Regions from separate parts of the Homo sapiens genome. Here regions 1, 2 and 4 are each linked to region 3. Evidence: fine-mapped expression QTL. A gene starts in region 3. Each other region holds a variant in brackets. All regions are shown on one strand. Distances are between the middles of the regions.

Region 1 (4,250 bases), 95 kb after region 3:
TGATGTTTCATTATAAGGTCATAATTCCTCAGAGTTAATTATTTTATTCCAGTACTGTTCAGGTACCCAACCACTGTCCCTCACGTGGGTTAAGAATGGGTTACTGTATTTTCCACAGTGGTGGAATTCGCTGGCTGTGAAACCCTGTTCTTGCCCTTGTGGATAGAACACAGAGATAAAATGCCACAAGATGTGTTTACATCATCTTTGCTTCATGGTATAGTATTATCTGTTGGGTGGTTTCTCTGTCCAGAGCTAAGTGGCGGAGATTTAGTTAGGTATCATAGTTTAAAACTACAGGCCTCAGAGCCAAACTGCTTGTGTTTGCATTACATTATCTGTTATTTCCAACCCATTTGTTTGGTGAAGTTAGTTGTACTTCTCAGTGCCTCAGTTTTGTCATATGTAAGTGAGAATGATAGTAGTACCTACCTTATAAAATTGTTATGTGTATTAAATGAGTAAATGTTTCGAAATCACCTAAAACAGTGCTTGGCTCGTATTGTAGAAGGCAGTTATGTTTTAAATAAAGTATAAATATTTTCTCCTAGCTTATCCCCTTTTCATTTTATAGCTTCATACACCCAGCAAATATTCATTGAGTTTTGATAAATACTACACACTTCGCAGATTGGGAAACCAGACCTGGTTATTAGAACAACTAATACCCGTATGATATTTTCAGTTTATGAAGCACTTCTTATTTTACTTTAATCTTTATGTTACCAGAAAGGGAGGGTTCTTGGATCTCCCGCAAGAAAGAATTCAGGGTGACTGCACAGAACAAAGTGAAAGCAAGTTTATTAGGAAAGTAAAGAAATAAAAGAATACTTACTCCATGGTCAGAGTAGCCCAAGGGCTGCTGGTTGCCTATTTTTATGATTATTTCTTGATGATATGCTAAACAAGGGGTGGATTATTCCTGCCTCCGCTTTTTAGACCATATAGGGTAACTTCCTGAGGTTGTCACGGCATTTGTAGACTGTCCTAGCACTGGTGGGAGTGTAGCAGTGAGGATGACCGGAGGTGACTCTCAGCGCCATCTTGGTTTTGGTGGGTTTTAGCTGGCGTTTTTACTGCAAGCTGTTTTGTCAGCAAGGTCTGTATGACCTGTATCTTGTGCTGATTTTCTGTCTCATCCTGTGACTTAGAATGCCTAACCATCTGGGAATGCAGCCCAGTACGCCTCAGGCTCCTTTTACCCAGCCACTACTCAAGATGGAGTTGCTCTGGTTCAAACGTCTCTGACACAACAATACTATAAGAAAGAGATTACAGGAATTCCCCAAAATTTGACTTTTAAGTAAACAGGCTAAAAGAAAGGGATGAATTTATTCAAGTTCATACACATCATGTAAAAGCTGAGACAAAATTCTGTTAAATTTCATTGAAAAAATGAAATGCTGCCAGTTTTGTAAACTGACTAACAGAACCTCCCCAGATGAAAGAAAAATGTTTTCAAGGGCCCGAGAAATAATGGTTAATAAAAACAAAAAATCAAATCAAAATAAAGTTAGCAACTCTAAAAGGTACTTTCCCTTACTAAAGACAAACACTTATTATTTTGGTCTTTAAAAAGTGTACTGTAAATCCAGTAGTAAATTTCTAAAATTAGCTTTTCAAAAAAAATTTTTTTTTGGTCCATGGTCAGGATTCTGCTCTTGATTTACAGATAATTTCCATTCTTATGGGAAGCATTGATGGTTACTTCTAAGATTCCCGACTGAGGTTTATTATGTGTTAGTCCATTTGTAAATGAATCAGCTCCAAAAATATCTCGAATTCATTTTATTTTCTTTCATTCATACTTCTATTTGACTTTTATCTATTTTGGGGCTGCAATATAAAGAGAAGAAGAT[G/A]TAAGTGAGACATAATGATAATAGCTTTATCAAACTCTTATATGCAAAGGAGAGTTCTAAGTTCTTAACAAATGCCAATTTACATTATCCGCATCATAACCCTCACAGGTGAATACTATTATTATGTCTTCTTTATACTTGGGGAAAATGAGGCACAGAGAGGTTAATTAGTGGTCCAAGAAAACAAACCTACTAAATTACCAGTTAAATTAAAATCCAGCCAGTTTAGTTTTAGAGTGTACAGTCTTGACTAACTCACCATGCTACTTATTAATGATTAAAATATTAAGAATTTAAAAAGTAATTGAGGGATAATGCAGCTTGGTTTTTTTAGCCTGCGAAAGAGAAAAATAAAAGATAATAATGTTATGGACTTTTGGCTTACAAAGGATGAAAAGTTACGGTCTCTGAGGGAAATTATTCCTGGAGAAACATTATGTTAGAGGCAAAAAGAAAAAAAAAAGTTCTACTAGTGACTGTGGTTGAAAAATTCAGATGAGGAAATGATTCATTAAGCAGGAAGCCCCCATTTCGTAGGCTTTACATATTCATAGGTCTATTTTAAGAGCTAAATATGACAGCATATATCAAGGACTCGACAGAGTGCCACTTGTATAGTTCCTTTAAGAGTCTTTTTAAAAGGCTTTTTTTTTGTCTTTTGATAAGTCAGTCTGTTTTTGGACTGGATTTTCCTCTGGGTATCAAGGACAAAAGTACTTGCCACATTTATGGCAGTGTTAGGGTGGAGAAGGGTTTCCATTTATGATCATGTGTAGGTAAATTGAAATGACTCCAATATTAACATTGTCTGTAAGAAAAATGTAATTCTGTGTGTTTTCTCTCACATTATTTGCTTGAAATCCTCTTTTTATATTCTCAGTCTTTCTTTTATATTGGGGACGATAGAGTTTTCTTCTGCTAGCCTTACAAATTCACATCATTGCAGATATAACAACCTGTAGAGGTACCAAAGCAGACAGAAGGCATCAGACACATTTACCAAGAGCCCCATCAATGCATATGAAAGAGGAAAGTAAATTCAGACTGTTGGAATTCATCTATTTACAATTTTTTTTCTTTCTTTCTTTCTTTTTTTTTTTTTTTTTTTTTTTGAGAGGGAACCTCACTCTATTGCCCAGTGGCAATATCTTGGCTCACTGCAACCTCTGCCTCCCCAGTTCAAGTGATTCTCCTGTCTCAGCCACATGAGTAGCTGGGATTACAGGCATGCGCCACCGCGCCTGGCTAATTTTTGTATTTTTACTAATAGTAAAGACAGGGTTTCACCATATTGGACACGCTGGTCTCGAACTCCTGACCTCGTGAACCACCTGCCTCTATCTCCCAAAGTGCTGGGATTACAGGTGTGAGCCACTGCACCTGGCCAATCCATCTGTCGTAAATAGTAAGATTTACATATTATATTTTTTGCTAACATTTATATATTAGCTGTATACTATGTGCACCATGTGTACTCTGATAGATATTTTAAAATTCAGGAACAATTATTTATACACTTAATTTATTTCATACCAAGCAGGGCCCCTGCATTAAAAAAACTGCAGGGGCACCATGCACCATGTCCTTATTATATTTAATATTATAGTATATCCTCTAAAGCACATATGTTTATATTTTACAGATGATGAAACGGGACCCTAACAGTTAAATAATTCACTTTATATCTCACCAGTAATGTGTAGTGGATGCATAAAAATAAGTGGTATTGGTAACAGAGCTTTCTGGACATCATGTTGCCTTTGTAATACTATGTAAAACATTAGTACATTAAACCTAACATAATTAAATACAGTTGAACAAAATACACAAATATTTGGCCTTCATAGCAAATCCAATCTATGGACTTAATCTTTTGGGCTTCCAAGTGTAGACTTGCACAATGCTTTTAAATACTGCCAACAAATTTTACATAGATAAATAGACTCTCATTGACAAGGTTAGGTTTTGTGTCCCCACCCAAAACTCCTCTTGAATTCTAATCCCCATAATCCCCGCCGCCCATGTCAAGGGAGAGACCAGGTGGAGGTAATTGAGTCATGGGGGCAGTTTTCCCCATGCTGTTCTCCTGATAGTGAGTTCTCACAAGATCTGATGGTTTTATAAGGGGCTCTACCCGCTTCACTCGGCACTTCTCCTTCCTGCCGCCTCGTAAAGAAGGTTCATTGCTTCCCCTTCGCCATCCTCCCTGGTTGTAAGTTTCCTGAGGCTTCTGCAGCCATGTAAACTCTTGAGTCAATTCAACCTCTTTCCTTTATAAATTACCCAGTCTTGGGCAGTTCTTTAGAGCAATATGAAAATGGAGTAACACACTCATCATCTTTATAAAAAATTGAATCACCTGCCAGTACTTTACCTCCATTCCCAAAACGG
Region 2 (4,250 bases), 27 kb before region 3:
AGAAGAAACATTTGTCATTTAGAATTATTGGTGATGGCCTGGATACGGTTTTGTATGAACTGAAAAACTAAATGGAATAACAGAAGGAGAAAAACAGGTATTAAAGGTCTAAGAATTGGGAGGACCTAGGACATCTAATTAGAGTGCCTAAGGAGATTCAGCGTAGTCCTGCCAGCAAAGATTATTTATTTACTTCAAGAGTTAAGAGTGGTAGTTTGGGGATAGCACCAGGAGATATCAGCTGTGATGGCTTGGAAAAACAGGGTAAACCGGCAGTGTAAACAAGAGCAGGGCATGTATGAGTAGTTGAGAACGGTGAATAGGAGTATGACTAGACAGAAGACAGTAGGGATGACAAGTTTTTGGGGGGCACAGTCTAAGTTGGTCTGGTGTCTGGAATGAGACTGGGGCGTAATAAAAAGGAGCGTCTATACAGGAGCTCAAATGGGCTGTACCTTGTAGCATTCTGACGACAGGTCTGACTTCTGAGAAGGGAAAGTGGTAAAAGTATTGTCCAGTCCTTTTCAAGTTGGTGGCTGAGCATGGTGAGGTGTGTTTTTAAAAGACCTTTAGTCCATTCTACTTTTCTTGAAGACGGAGGACCGTAAGGGATATAAAGGTTTCACTGAATACTAAGAGCCTGAAAAACTGCTTGGCTGATTTGACTAATAAAGGCTCATCTGTTATCAGACTGTATTGAGGTGGGAAGGCTAAACTGGGGAATTATGTCTGACAGAAGGGAAGAAATGACTGCGGTGGCCTTCTCAGACCCTGTAGGAAAGGACTCTACCTATCCAGTGAAAGTGTCTACCTAGACTAAGAGGTATTTTAGTTATCTGACTCGGGGCATGTTGAGTAAAGCTAATTTGCCAGTCCTGGGTGGGGCAAATCCTCGAGCTTGATGTGTAGGGAAGGGAGGGGGCCTGAATAATCCCTGATGAGTAGTAGAATAGCAGATGGAACACTGAGAAGTTATTTCCTTGAGGATAGATTTCCACGATGGAAAGGAAATGAGAGGTTCTAGGAGGCGGGCTAGTGGCTTGTACTATAGCATAACCTGCCTTTGCTGGTGTGTGGCGATTAGGCCTGGTGGAACCGCCATCAATAAATCAAGCATGATCAGGGTGAGGAACAGGAAAGAAGGAAATTTGGGGAAATGGGGTGAATGTCAGGTGGATCAGAGAGATACAGTCATGGGGGTCAGGTGTGGTATCAGGAATAATGTGGGAGGCCGGATTGAAGTCTAGGCCAGGAACAGTGGTAATTGTGGGACTTAGCAAAGAGTGAGTACAGCTGAAGGAGCCGGGGAGCAGAAAGTATATGCTTCAGGTATGAGGAAGAAAATAGATTTTGGAAGTTATGAGAAATGTGGGGAGTGAGTTGAGCATAGTTTGTGATTTTTAGGGCCTCTAAAAGTATTAAAGCAGCGACAGCCACTGCACGCAGACATGAGGGCTAGGCTAAAACAGTAAGGTCAAGTTGTTTGCACAGAAAGGCTACAGGGTGCAGTCCTGGCTCTTGTGTAAGAATTCTGACCGCACTAACTATGCCTAGGAAGGAAAGGAGTTGTTGTTTTGTAAGGGATTGAGGTTTGGGAGATTAATTGGACACGATCAGCAGCGAAAGCACGTGTGCTTTTATGAGAATTATGCCGAGATAGGTAACAGATGAGGATGAAATTTGGGCTTGACTGAAGTAATGGGGGCTGTCTGTGAAGCCTTGCGGCAGTACAGCCCAGGTGACTTGCTGAAC[CT/T]GATGGGTGTCAGTGTCAGTCTAAGTGAAAGCAAAGAGAGGCTGGGACGAGGGGTGCAGGGGAATAGTGAAAAAAGCATCTTTAAGATGGAGAACGGAATAGTGAGTTGTGGAGGAAGGTATTGAGGACAAAAGAGTGTACGGGTTGGGCACCACAGGATGGATAGGCAAAACAATTTAGTTGATAAGGCACAGATCCTGAACTAATCTGTAAGACTTGTCCGGTTTTTGGACAGGTAAAATGGGGGAATTGTAAGGAGAGTTTACAGGCTTTAAAAGGCCATGCTGTAGCAGGCGAGCGATAACAGGCTTTAATCCTTTCAAAGCATGCTGCGGGATGGGATATTGGCATTGAGTGGGGTAAGGGTGATTAGGTTTTAATGAGATGGTAAGGGGTGCATGATCGGTCGCCAAGGAGGGAGTAGATGTATCTTATACTTGTGGGTTAAGGTCGGGGAATACAAGAGGATGCAAAGGAGGCTTTGGATTGGGAAGAAGGGAGGCAATGAAATATAGCTGTAATCCAGGAATAGTCAGGGAAGCAGATAATTTAGTTAAAGTGTCTCGGCCTAATAAGGGAACTGGGCAGGTGGGGATAACTAAAAGGAGTGCCTAAAAGAGTATTGTCTAAGTTGGCACCAGAGTTGGGGAGTTTTAAGAGGTTTAGAAGCCTGGCTGTCAATACCCACAACAGTTATGGAGGCAAGGGAAACAGGCCCTTGAAAAGAAGGTAATGTGGAGTGGGTAGCCTCAGTATTGATTAAGAAGGGGACGGACTTACCCTCCACTGTGAGAGTTACCCGAAGCTCAGCGTCCGTGATGGTCTAGGGGGCTTCCGAGGCGATCGGGCAGCGTTAGTCTTCAGCCACTAAGCCAAGAAGATCTGGGAAGCAGTCAGAGAGCCTTGGGCCAGAGTTCCAGGGGCTCTGGGAGTGGCTGCCAGGTGAGTTGGACAGTCCAATTTCCAGTGGGGTCCCGCACAGATGGGACGTGGCTTAGGAGGAATCCTGGGCTGCAGGCATTCCTTGGCCTGGTGGCCAGATTTCTGGCACTTGTAGCAAGCTCCTGGGGGAGGAGGTTCTGGAGGAATGCCTGGCCGCTGAGGTTCAGGCGTTTGGAAGTTCTTGTGTGCTGGAGACGTGGCTGAGGTTTGTCTCACAGTGAAGGCAAGGAATTGCAACTTTTTTCTATTATTGTACACCTTGAAGGTGAGGTTAATTAAATTCTGTTGTGGGGTTTGAGGGCCGGAATTTAATTTTTGGAGTTTTATTTAATGTTGGGAGCAGATTGGGTAATAAAATGTATTTTGAGAATAAGACGGCCTTTTGACCTTTTAGGGTCTAGGGCTGTAAAGTGTCTCAGGGTTGCTGCCAAAGGAGCCATGAACTGGGCTGGATTTTTATATTTGATGAAAAAGAGCCTAAATGCTATCTGATTTGGGATAAAGAAAAAGAAGCATTAACCTTGACTATGCCTTTAGCTCCAGCCACCGATGGGCAGGTGGGGGAGGGCTAGTCACAGAAAGAAACTGTAAGCCGGACCAGGTGTGAGGAGGGGAGGTGATAAAAGGATTATAGGGTGGAGGAGCGGAGGCTGAGGAAGAATTGGGACCTAGCTCGGCCTGGCGAGGAGCAGCCTGGGGAGGAGGGGAGAGGTCAGATGGGTCTGTAGAAAAGGAAGATTAGAAAGACTCAGCGACGCTTGGGGTTGGGACTGAGGGGACAGGTGGGAGGGAAAGAAGGAAGATTTGGGAACAGTTGCTTTGGGAACAGAGACTAGAGAGGGACCGACGTGTAAAAGAATGCCTGGACGTCAGGCACCTCAGACCATTTGCCCACTTTACAACAAGATTTATTTAGATCTTGTAGGATGGAAAAATTGAAAGTGCCGTTTTCCGGCTGTTTGGAACTACTGTCGAGTTTGTATTGGGGTCAAGCGGTATTGCAGAAGAAAATAAGATGCTTAGATTTTAGGTCAGGTGTGAGTTGAAGAGGTTTTAAGTTTTTGAGGACACAGGCTAAGGGAGAAGAAGGAGGAATGGAGAGTGGAAGGTTGCCCATAGTGAAGGAAGCAAGCCTAGAGAAAAGAGAGAGTAGAGACACAGAGGGAAGGGGTTCGGGGGTTCTTACCTTCCAGAAAAGCAGGAAAGGGGTTGGGGCGTGGAAATAAGGGATTGGGGCACAGAGATAAGAGGTTGGGGCATGGAAATAAGGGATTGGGGTGCAGAGATATGAAGTTGGGGTACTTGCCCCTCTAGAAAAGCGGGACTTGCTGCTAAGAGTGAAGAAGAAGGGGTTACGGGTTTCTTGCCCCCCAGAAAGGTGGAGAAGGGGTAGAGACACAGAGAGAAGGGGTTGGGGTACTTGCCTCTCCCCTAGAAAAGCAGGACTTGCCGCTAAGGGTGAAGGACTAAGGCAGGCGTCCCTGCGTGGTCTGACACCTCTAAAACCTGGGTGAATAATCAGAGAGGCGTCCCTGCAATGATTAAACACCAAGGG
Region 3 (4,250 bases):
CAGACAATCTCTAGAGAAAAAGTCTGGGCAGATGACTGATGTGCTAATTCTGGAACACTGACCATCCAAGGCATTCAATATACATTCAGCTCCAAACTGGAGCTTTTTCATCAGTGATATGAGCCGAATTAGTAACGTTTGGTGGGAAAAAAAAAGAGCATGATTCATCAGTGTCTCTTGGAATTACACAGCCAGGGCTGTTCATGGCCTGAGTGGTCAAACCTAACAAAATGAATGAAGGAATCAGCATGAATCTCTGGCAAGCCCCTCAGCGTAGTGGTGATTCCACATAAAAGCCTTCTTCGGAAAAATCATAGCAACTAGATACATGCGTGAGTCTTTTTCCCATTGCCTGTCCCTCTGCTCACCATTGCAGGGGCTGAAAGACTGATGAGATTCTCACAGGCACTAGAAGACCACAGAAATGCCTCCAGGAGGCAGGCTGGGATCCAGGGTCCAACCAATATTCTTGTGAGAGTGTGAAGCCAAGGAACACGAAAGAGGGGAACACCTTGGCTAAGAATGTATTCGTGACAGAGGAGAAGGGGAGGAACAGGAAGCCTCCAGCTAGTCGTTTGGAATCTGGCAACCATTTCTGTCAGCTTTCTCATTCCTAGATTGATGCAGATTGCTTAATTCCTTGAGGTAAGGGATATACTAAATTGCCTCTTTGTTCAACTCTTAGAATAAGAATTTCCCTCTCCTCTCCCGTCCCCTCCCCTCCCCTCCTCTCCTCTCTTTTCTTTTTCTTTGTTTTTTTTGTTTTTGAGACGGAGTCTCACTCTGTCACCCAGGCTGCATGATCTCAGCTCACTGCAACCTTCACCTCCCAGGTTCAAGCAATTATCCTGCCTCAGCCTCCTGAGTAGCTGGGTCTGCAGGCACGTGCCACCACGCCCAGCTAATTTTTGTATTTTTAGTAGAGACGGGGTTTTGCCATGGTGGCCAGGCTGGTCTCGAACTCCTGACCTCAGGTGATCCACCCGCCTTGGCCTCCCAAAGTGCTGGGATTACAGGGGTGAGCCACTGCACCTGGCCCACAGCAAGAATTTTTTTCTGAATAGCATTTTACGTGTTAGGCGTCTGGCTGTTTAGGAGATGAGGAAACTGAGGCCCTCAGTTGCCAAGGTCACACAGCTGGTAAACGGACGGAGCCAGAATGCGAGTACAGCTCCTCCTGCCTCCAAAGGTTCTCTGGGCCCTGTAAAACCACGGGCTGCACAGGAAAGGCAGGCTATATATTGTTCTTCCCCTGGCCCAGCGCCCTGATCCAATGCCCGGACACACATCCACACCAAGTTGGACGAAAAGGTAAGGGAGAAACCTTCCCCAAGAGAAGAAGCGGTAAGCTTTGGTTCTAAAGGCCCTGGGTTGGGTCCGTCCTTTGCCACTTCTCAGCTCTATGCATTTAGGCAAATCACTTATCTTCTTAAACCTCCGCATCTGGGCCTACAGGGCCTCTATGGGTTTTTTTTCTATTTATTTATTTATTTATTCTTTTTTTTTTTAACTTTACGTTCCGGGATACACGTGCAGAATGCGCAGATTTGTTGCGTAGGTACACATGGCATCTACGGTTTGATTCAGTCTGAAATGGCGCTCCAGGCTTCATTTAGAAGGTGAAGCACTCTGCAAACTGCGAGGCCATACAGAGATTCCAGAATATGATTAAGGCCCTAACCTTGCTAAGCTGGATTTTCTTTATTTCCCAAAAAGAAGACTAATACTATCCACTTGTACAACCAGAAGGGAGCTCACGTGTAAAGCGCCTCGTCCCCGGCCGGCCTCAAGCGGCGCTAGCTCTCTGGCTGGCGCTGGAGTGTGCCGCCCCTGGCAGCCCCGCCGCTGCAGCGGGGAGCCTGGGAGAGCGGCTCTCGGAGTCTCAGGCAGCAGGAGGAGCGTGTGAGCTGTGGGCGTCCCTTTAAGAGCGGCTGGCCAGGCACGGCCTCCGCCTCTCAGTACGCGGAGCGCCGGCGGTCACCTGGGGCTCGCGGAGCGGCCAGATCGCGGCGGAGTCGGCGCGCTTCCCCGAGGGAAGGTGGGAGAGGGGACCCGGACGCGAGGTGCCCCGAAGCCCTCTCGAGCGTAACCGTCCCGCGCCTCTCTGAGGCGGAGGATGCGGGAGCGCATCTGGGCGCCGCCGCTGCTGCTGCTGCTGCCGCTGCTACTGCCGCCGCCACTGTGGGGCGGCCCCCCGGACAGCCCACGCCGGGAGCTGGAGCTGGAGCCCGGGCCTCTGCAGCCCTTCGACCTGCTCTACGCCAGCGGCGCGGCCGCCTACTACAGCGGAGACTACGAGCGAGCGGTGCGCGACTTGGAAGCGGCGCTGCGCAGCCACCGGCGCCTGCGGGAAATCCGCACGCGCTGTGCCCGCCACTGCGCGGCGCGCCACCCGCTCCCGCCCCCGCCCCCCGGCGAGGGCCCCGGCGCTGAGCTGCCCCTTTTCCGCTCCTTGTTGGGGCGGGCGCGCTGTTATCGCAGCTGTGAGACCCAGCGCCTCGGGGGCCCCGCATCCCGCCACCGCGTCAGCGAGGATGTGCGCAGCGACTTCCAGCGCAGAGTGCCCTACAACTACCTGCAGCGGGCCTACATCAAGGTACCCACAGAGCGCTCCTCCACTGCAAAGCCCCTGCGGCTCTCACACGCTCTCTTGAGCCCTCCCTGCTGCCCCCGTCATCTCTGTTCAGTCTTTCGAATTGGGTCTCCTTAAATATGTGTCTCAGTTTGTGAATCCAGATATCTGGTGGCCCTATCTCTGTATGCAACAATTGATTAACTTGGACAAGTCTTTTTCTCTCTTTCTCAGAGCCAGCTTCTCTCTCAAAAAGAGGACTGTCCTGATAAGGTGATGTTTAAAGTACCCATTCAGCACTAATTCATGAGGCATTGACAAAGCTGAATCTAGTACAATTTATCTTCTCCCTTCTCACTTCCCATTTCTCTTCTCCCTTCTCACTTCCCATTTCTCTTCTCCCTTCTCACTTCCCATTTCTTTTGTCTCCTCTCTCTTATCCTTCCTATACTGTAGTCTGCACCTTTTCTCTGAAGTTTAAAAGAATCTTCAAAATAGTGAAGTTGAAAGACCTGTTCCAAAACAAATTTCTCTCTCTTCTCCCCTTCACCTACAAAAAAGTAAAGATCAAAGGTTAAAGAGAAGGTATGCTTGGAGGAGGCGAAGCTGTTTGAGGCAGTCTCAGTCAAAGTATCCACCCTAAGTGTTGACTTTTTCTCCTTTGATAGAGGGCTTACGTTTTCTGGTGGTATGCATTGGACTGGGTTACTAGGCATCAGTCCTCTCTTTCTAGTTTTATTTTTGTATGCCTAACTTGCCTAAAGTTAGCGTCAGGAGGTATAGTATGCATATTGACATATTGTTCACATCCATAACTTTGAAGATCTCTCTGGATGCTTCAGCAGAGGGAATTTGAATGAGTTCTTCAACCTCCACTGCCACTCACCCAATTTTCCTTCAAATTGACACTCTTAACCCTTCTTTCTCGTTTTCTGTGTTAATATATCAATGTATCTTCTACAGCTACCGGAAAAGTGGAAGCTTTGGGGTTGGTTGTTCATGCTAGCCAATGGACCAGGCTGCTCTGCTCTGCTCTGCTCTGCTGTGCTCTGCTTTGCTTTCTTTTCTCCTCTCCTCTCCCCTCCTCTCCTCTCCTCTCCTCTCCCCTCCCCTCCCCTCCCCTCCCCTCCCCTCCCCTCTCCTCTCCTCTCTTCCTTTTCTTTTCTTTTTTTGACGGAGTTTTGCTCTTGTCACCCAGGCTGGAGTGCAGTGGTGCAATCTGGGCTCACTGCAACCTCCGCCTCCCGGGCTCAAACGATTCTCCTGCCTCAGCCTCCTGAGTAGCTGGGATTACAGGTGTGCACCACCATGCCGGGCTAATTTTTGTGTGTGTTTGTGTATTTTTAGTAGCGAAGGGGTTTCACCATGTTGGCCAGGCTGGTCTCGAACTCCTGACCTCAGGTGACCCGTCCGTCTCCGCCTCCAAAAGTGCTGGGATTATAGGCGTGAGCACGGCTGGACCAGGCTGTGTTTCTAAGGAGATGAAAGTACATACCATGTTCAAATATCCAAATGCCTTTTGCAGCTCATCCCACAAGATCTCTGCCCTCATCTGTGGTAGGGTTCTCTCAGATTGGCAACTGTTGGTGGAGTGCACGAAATTTCAACTAAGTATAAATCTTAACTTCCTTGTGTTGTGGCTAAGGTGTTGGAGTTCACTGGACTAGTATCTTGGGCA
Region 4 (4,250 bases), 72 kb after region 3:
TTATTTTGTATTGGTTGTTCATCATCCTGACAAAAGTAACTTTTTCTTCAGTTGCCTCTTCACTCTTTTCTCATCCAGAGTAACCTCCCAGCTATTAATAGCCTATTTCCTTTAAATCCTAACCTGTACCCGCATCAAATGGCATTAGCATTGTCCTGTTTCTGCATTATTGATTCTAACTTATCAAATTACATGATGATACAGTTATTGATGTCACAGGTGAACTAACAAGACCTGCACTACCTATAGCTATGACTGGTCTGCTTCAGTTCGCAGATTAGGAAATTGCTACAGATTAATATCCTAATTTCAGAAGGCATTTGACAGTATCTTTTATATTATGACTTCATGACCAGCTAGATAAATGTATTATCATTGGTATTGTGTAGGTTTGTGAAACAATTTACTTGGTATCAAGTAATGAATTGGTATTAAGCTGGAAGGAGGTCACTAGTATAGGTAGTAAGTTTCAGGCTAATACTCTTCATTCTTCTAATGTAATAGAATTTGCATGAAGCTGAGATATTATAACTTTATAAGAGAAGGTAACTGAGAAAAGATGACCAATTTTATTATAAAGCACAGTCTCTGTCATGAAGGACGAATAAAATCTAATGGACTTGTGTTTTCCTAATATTCCTCAAAAAACTCATATATACACAAACAAATGATCATACAGATATAGAACTGTAGAGAATTGACTTAGCCACAATATTTATGAGGACTCGAAAGTTTTAGTAAATTAATTGGAATCAATGATAAGACATGCCTTCCAGAAAAAAACAAAACCTGACATCTAAGTCTGCATCTATAGAAGCATAGATACTTCTAGAGATCTGAATTTCTGTAATCATTTTGAAGCCCCATGTCTTAAGACATTGACAAGTAGAGAGGATTAATTTGATGCATTCATTTAAGAACTAGAGCTGTGTCTTCCTGCAAAATGGAAGAGTTTGTGAATATGATTGTCGCTTTCAAATATCTAAAAAGCTATTGCAGGAAAAAGGAATTGCATTACTCTTCTTTTTGTTCTTCCAAAGTGCAAAATCAAGAGCAATAGTGGAAGTTATAGAGAGATAGATTATGGTTCAGCGTAAGAAAGAAATCCCGTTTGACTTAGATCTTTCGTAGGACAGAATGAACTCTTTTGGAAAGTAGCAATTTTGTTCACATGGGGAAAATTTAATCAGAGACTGGATGAACATTTTAGATTGATTTATATTAGCATTTTTCACTGCATGTCCTGCAAATTACCACCCTTGTAAGATATTTTGCAAGTTTCTGGGTCAACCAGCTTTGAGAGATATTACAGAGTATGTTGACCTCTTGAATATTTACAATGTGCATCAGCATATTAGAGACTCTGAAAGTTCCACAATAAAGAAAGCTGTTTAACTTTGTGTAACCCGGCATTTCCCAATTTATTTAAGCCCCTCAGTTTTTCACATGTCGTGGAACAAATATGCTTCAGAACTCACATTGGGAAATGCACTTAAAGGAGGTGAACCAGATAACTTTGATTCCGTGAAACTATTTTCTCCATATGTATTGACAGGTTATTTTATAAATTCACACACATACATCTGTGTGTTTGTGTTTGTGTGTATCTATGTAGCCGAGGGTGGGTTTTAAGTCTTATTTATAGATAGGTGACAATTTTGAAAGAGTTTTTATGAAGGCCAATAAATTAATAGCATGATGAATAAATACTCCTTTAAGAATCTCAACTGCCTCAAGAAAACTACAATTCTTAATTTTCCATAGAGATGTCATGAAAGCGAAATGTATTTGTCACATATCAACAACCACTCATCAACCTGAGAATAAGGCTAAAGCTCCAGAACTTTTTTTTCTTCTTTTTTTCCCTTTCCCTCCCCTGCCATTTAGGCGAAAAGCCAATTTCTTGAAAGTGGTACAGGAGGGGATGTGAGCAAATACAGCGTAATGATTGAGCTACAATTTAAGCATCTGGTTTTATTTATGTGCAAGCACCGTGCACAGAACTTAATTAATATGACTGAAAAAAAAAACCATGTGTCTATTGAAATGTTAGGTAGTGCCTCACATATGTGTGTTTCTCTTTCCTAAACACTCCCCGATCCTGATCTTTTTATCACACCTTCGAGATTCAGTTTTGTGCAAGATTTATGAACATGCAGTTTTTCTTCCTCTTCTGACTTTCTATTTTTCTTTCCCTGTAGTTTTATATCTAGAAAACTACTACTTTGGCAAGGGTTGAGGACTGAGTCACGGACGTGCCCTTACTCACGTCTTCTGTGATTTGAAGGCAGAATCTGAAGCAAATTCCAACACAGCTGTGAGAGGCAGCCCGTTTTTGTTCTTAAAATGCTAACTACACACATTTGCAAACCTGCAAAGCTATTTTTCTCCTTCCTTTGGAAGGTGTTAAGGCTAAAAGGACATGTAGACAGGAGACAGCAAGGAGAGTCCCTTT[C/T]CTGTCTCTGTTATAGAACTTCTATTTATTTTTAGTGTTTATTTTTTCACTTGTGAATGACATGATACTGACCTGGAAGAAACATTGCTTCTGGGATATGTAGCTGATCTCCTGCTACTGTCCCTATAGTCCACCGAAAAGTTAAAAGGCTTCAATTCTGATCATCTTCTCCAGGAGAATTTTTATAGCCAGTGATGTCAAGCTTACATTTTAACTTTGTTTTCATTTGTTTGTTTTTTAATATACTTGGTTATTAATGTCATAGTTCATCAATAGCCTACCAGGTACAAAAATCATCTAGTAAAATAAAGCAAAATCTATGGTAGTTATATTATTTTCAAAACTATTTTTTGGCATTCTCATTGTGTTGCCCAGTCTGGAGTGCAGTGGTGTGATCTCGGCTCTCTGCAACCTCCACCTCCCGGGTTCAAGCGATTCTCATGCCTCAGCCTTCCAAGTAGTTGGGATTATAGGCACCTGCCACCATGCCCAGATAACTTTTGTATTTTTTAGTAGAGATGGGGTTTCACCATGTTGGCCAGGCTGGTCTCGAACTCCTGACCTCAAGTGATCTGCCCACCTCAGCCTCCCAAAGTGCTGGGATTACAGGTGTCAACCACCACACCCGGCTCAAACCATGTTTAAGTTAGCAGAAGCCATTTTTAAAATAAAATCTCTTGAATCATTGTAATTTTTTTAAAAAGAGAGAAGAAAAAATAATAAATGAAGATAGTTGTGTTGGTGAAACTGCTCCTCTTCTGTATTCAACAGTCCTTGAGGGACCTCTAAAGTACCTCCAGAAGTCATTGTGACAGCCACTTCTCTCAAATGCAAGAAATCAGAAGAAAGACCTGTATACATAAAAAAAGGATAAAACAAGGGTAAAGCATTTCTTTGTGTTGAGAACTTTCCAAATCTTACCTTCTAGCTATTTTGCAATAGATTATAAATTATTGTTAACTGTAGTCTCCCTACTGTGCTATTCCATACTGTAACTTATTCCTTCTATCTAACTGTATTTTTATACCCATTAACCAATGCCTCTTCATTCTCACCTCTCCCACTACCCTTTCCAGCCTCTGGTAGCCATCAGAGACTACTTACTACCTCTATGAGATCAATTTTTTAGCACCTGTATATGAGTGAGAACATGCAATATTTGTCTTTCTGAGCCTGGCTTATTTACCTTAACATACTGTCCTCCAGTTCCATCCATGTTGCTGCAAATGTTTCTTCACAGGAAACATGGTGTATATATACACACGAGAATATTATTCAGCCATAAAAAAGAATACAACCCTGTCATTTGCAGGAACTCTTATGTTTAGATATCTGTACTTTCATGTTCATTGATGGACACTTAGGTTGATTTCACAGCTTAGCTATTGTGAATACTCCTACAATAAACATGAGAGTACAGATACCTCTTTAATACACTAGTTTCCTTTCCCTTGGATATATACTCAGCAGTGCGGTTGCTAGATCTTATGGTAATTCTACTTTTAGTTTTTTGAGGACTCTCCATACTGTTTCCATATTGGTTTCCATAGTGGCTGCACTGATTTGTATCTCTACCAACATCATTGTCAGGTCACCATTTGCTATATGAAGTCTTTTGGATTATAGCCATTTTAACTGGGGTGAGATGATATCTCACTGTGGTTTTGATTTGCATTTCTCTGATGATTGGTGATGTTGAGCACCTTTTCATTTACTTGTTGGTCATTTGTATGTCTTCTTTTAAGAAATGTCTATTCCGATCTTTTGCCCATTTTTAGATCAGATTATTTGTTTT

What was found. PIP is the estimated chance that this variant, and not a neighbour inherited with it, causes the effect.
Region 1: its variant is the best candidate, but not a certain one, in a credible set for the expression of P3H2 in unexposed skin (GTEx, PIP 0.60).
Region 2: its variant is the best candidate, but not a certain one, in a credible set for the expression of P3H2 in esophagus mucosa (GTEx, PIP 0.77).
Region 4: its variant is the best candidate, but not a certain one, in a credible set for the expression of P3H2 in thyroid (GTEx, PIP 0.86).

What each region holds. Positions count from the first base shown.
Region 1 is chr3:190,023,252-190,027,501 of GRCh38, reverse strand. The region is part of intron 1 of P3H2 (prolyl 3-hydroxylase 2); the gene reads left to right. Among named protein-coding and RNA genes, the nearest start is that of P3H2, 96 kb to the left of the region's middle. The variant G/A (reference allele first, on the strand shown) is at 1,860.
Region 2 is chr3:190,145,337-190,149,586 of GRCh38, reverse strand. No RefSeq gene overlaps it. Among named protein-coding and RNA genes, the nearest start is that of P3H2-AS1, 26 kb to the right of the region's middle. The variant CT/T (reference allele first, on the strand shown) is at 1,753.
Region 3 is chr3:190,118,598-190,122,847 of GRCh38, reverse strand. It overlaps P3H2 (prolyl 3-hydroxylase 2), which reads left to right and starts at 1,951. Exons shown (of 15, transcript NM_018192.4): 1 at 1,951-2,596. The coding sequence starts at 2,117. It overlaps P3H2-AS1 (P3H2 antisense RNA 1), which reads right to left and starts at 1,884. Exons shown (of 4, transcript NR_126419.1): 1 at 1,759-1,884. RefSeq lists an enhancer at 1,565-1,744 and silencers at 1,714-2,008, 1,955-2,184, 2,395-2,474.
Region 4 is chr3:190,047,050-190,051,299 of GRCh38, reverse strand. All of the region lies in intron 1 of P3H2 (prolyl 3-hydroxylase 2), which reads left to right. Among named protein-coding and RNA genes, the nearest start is that of P3H2, 72 kb to the left of the region's middle. The variant C/T (reference allele first, on the strand shown) is at 2,456.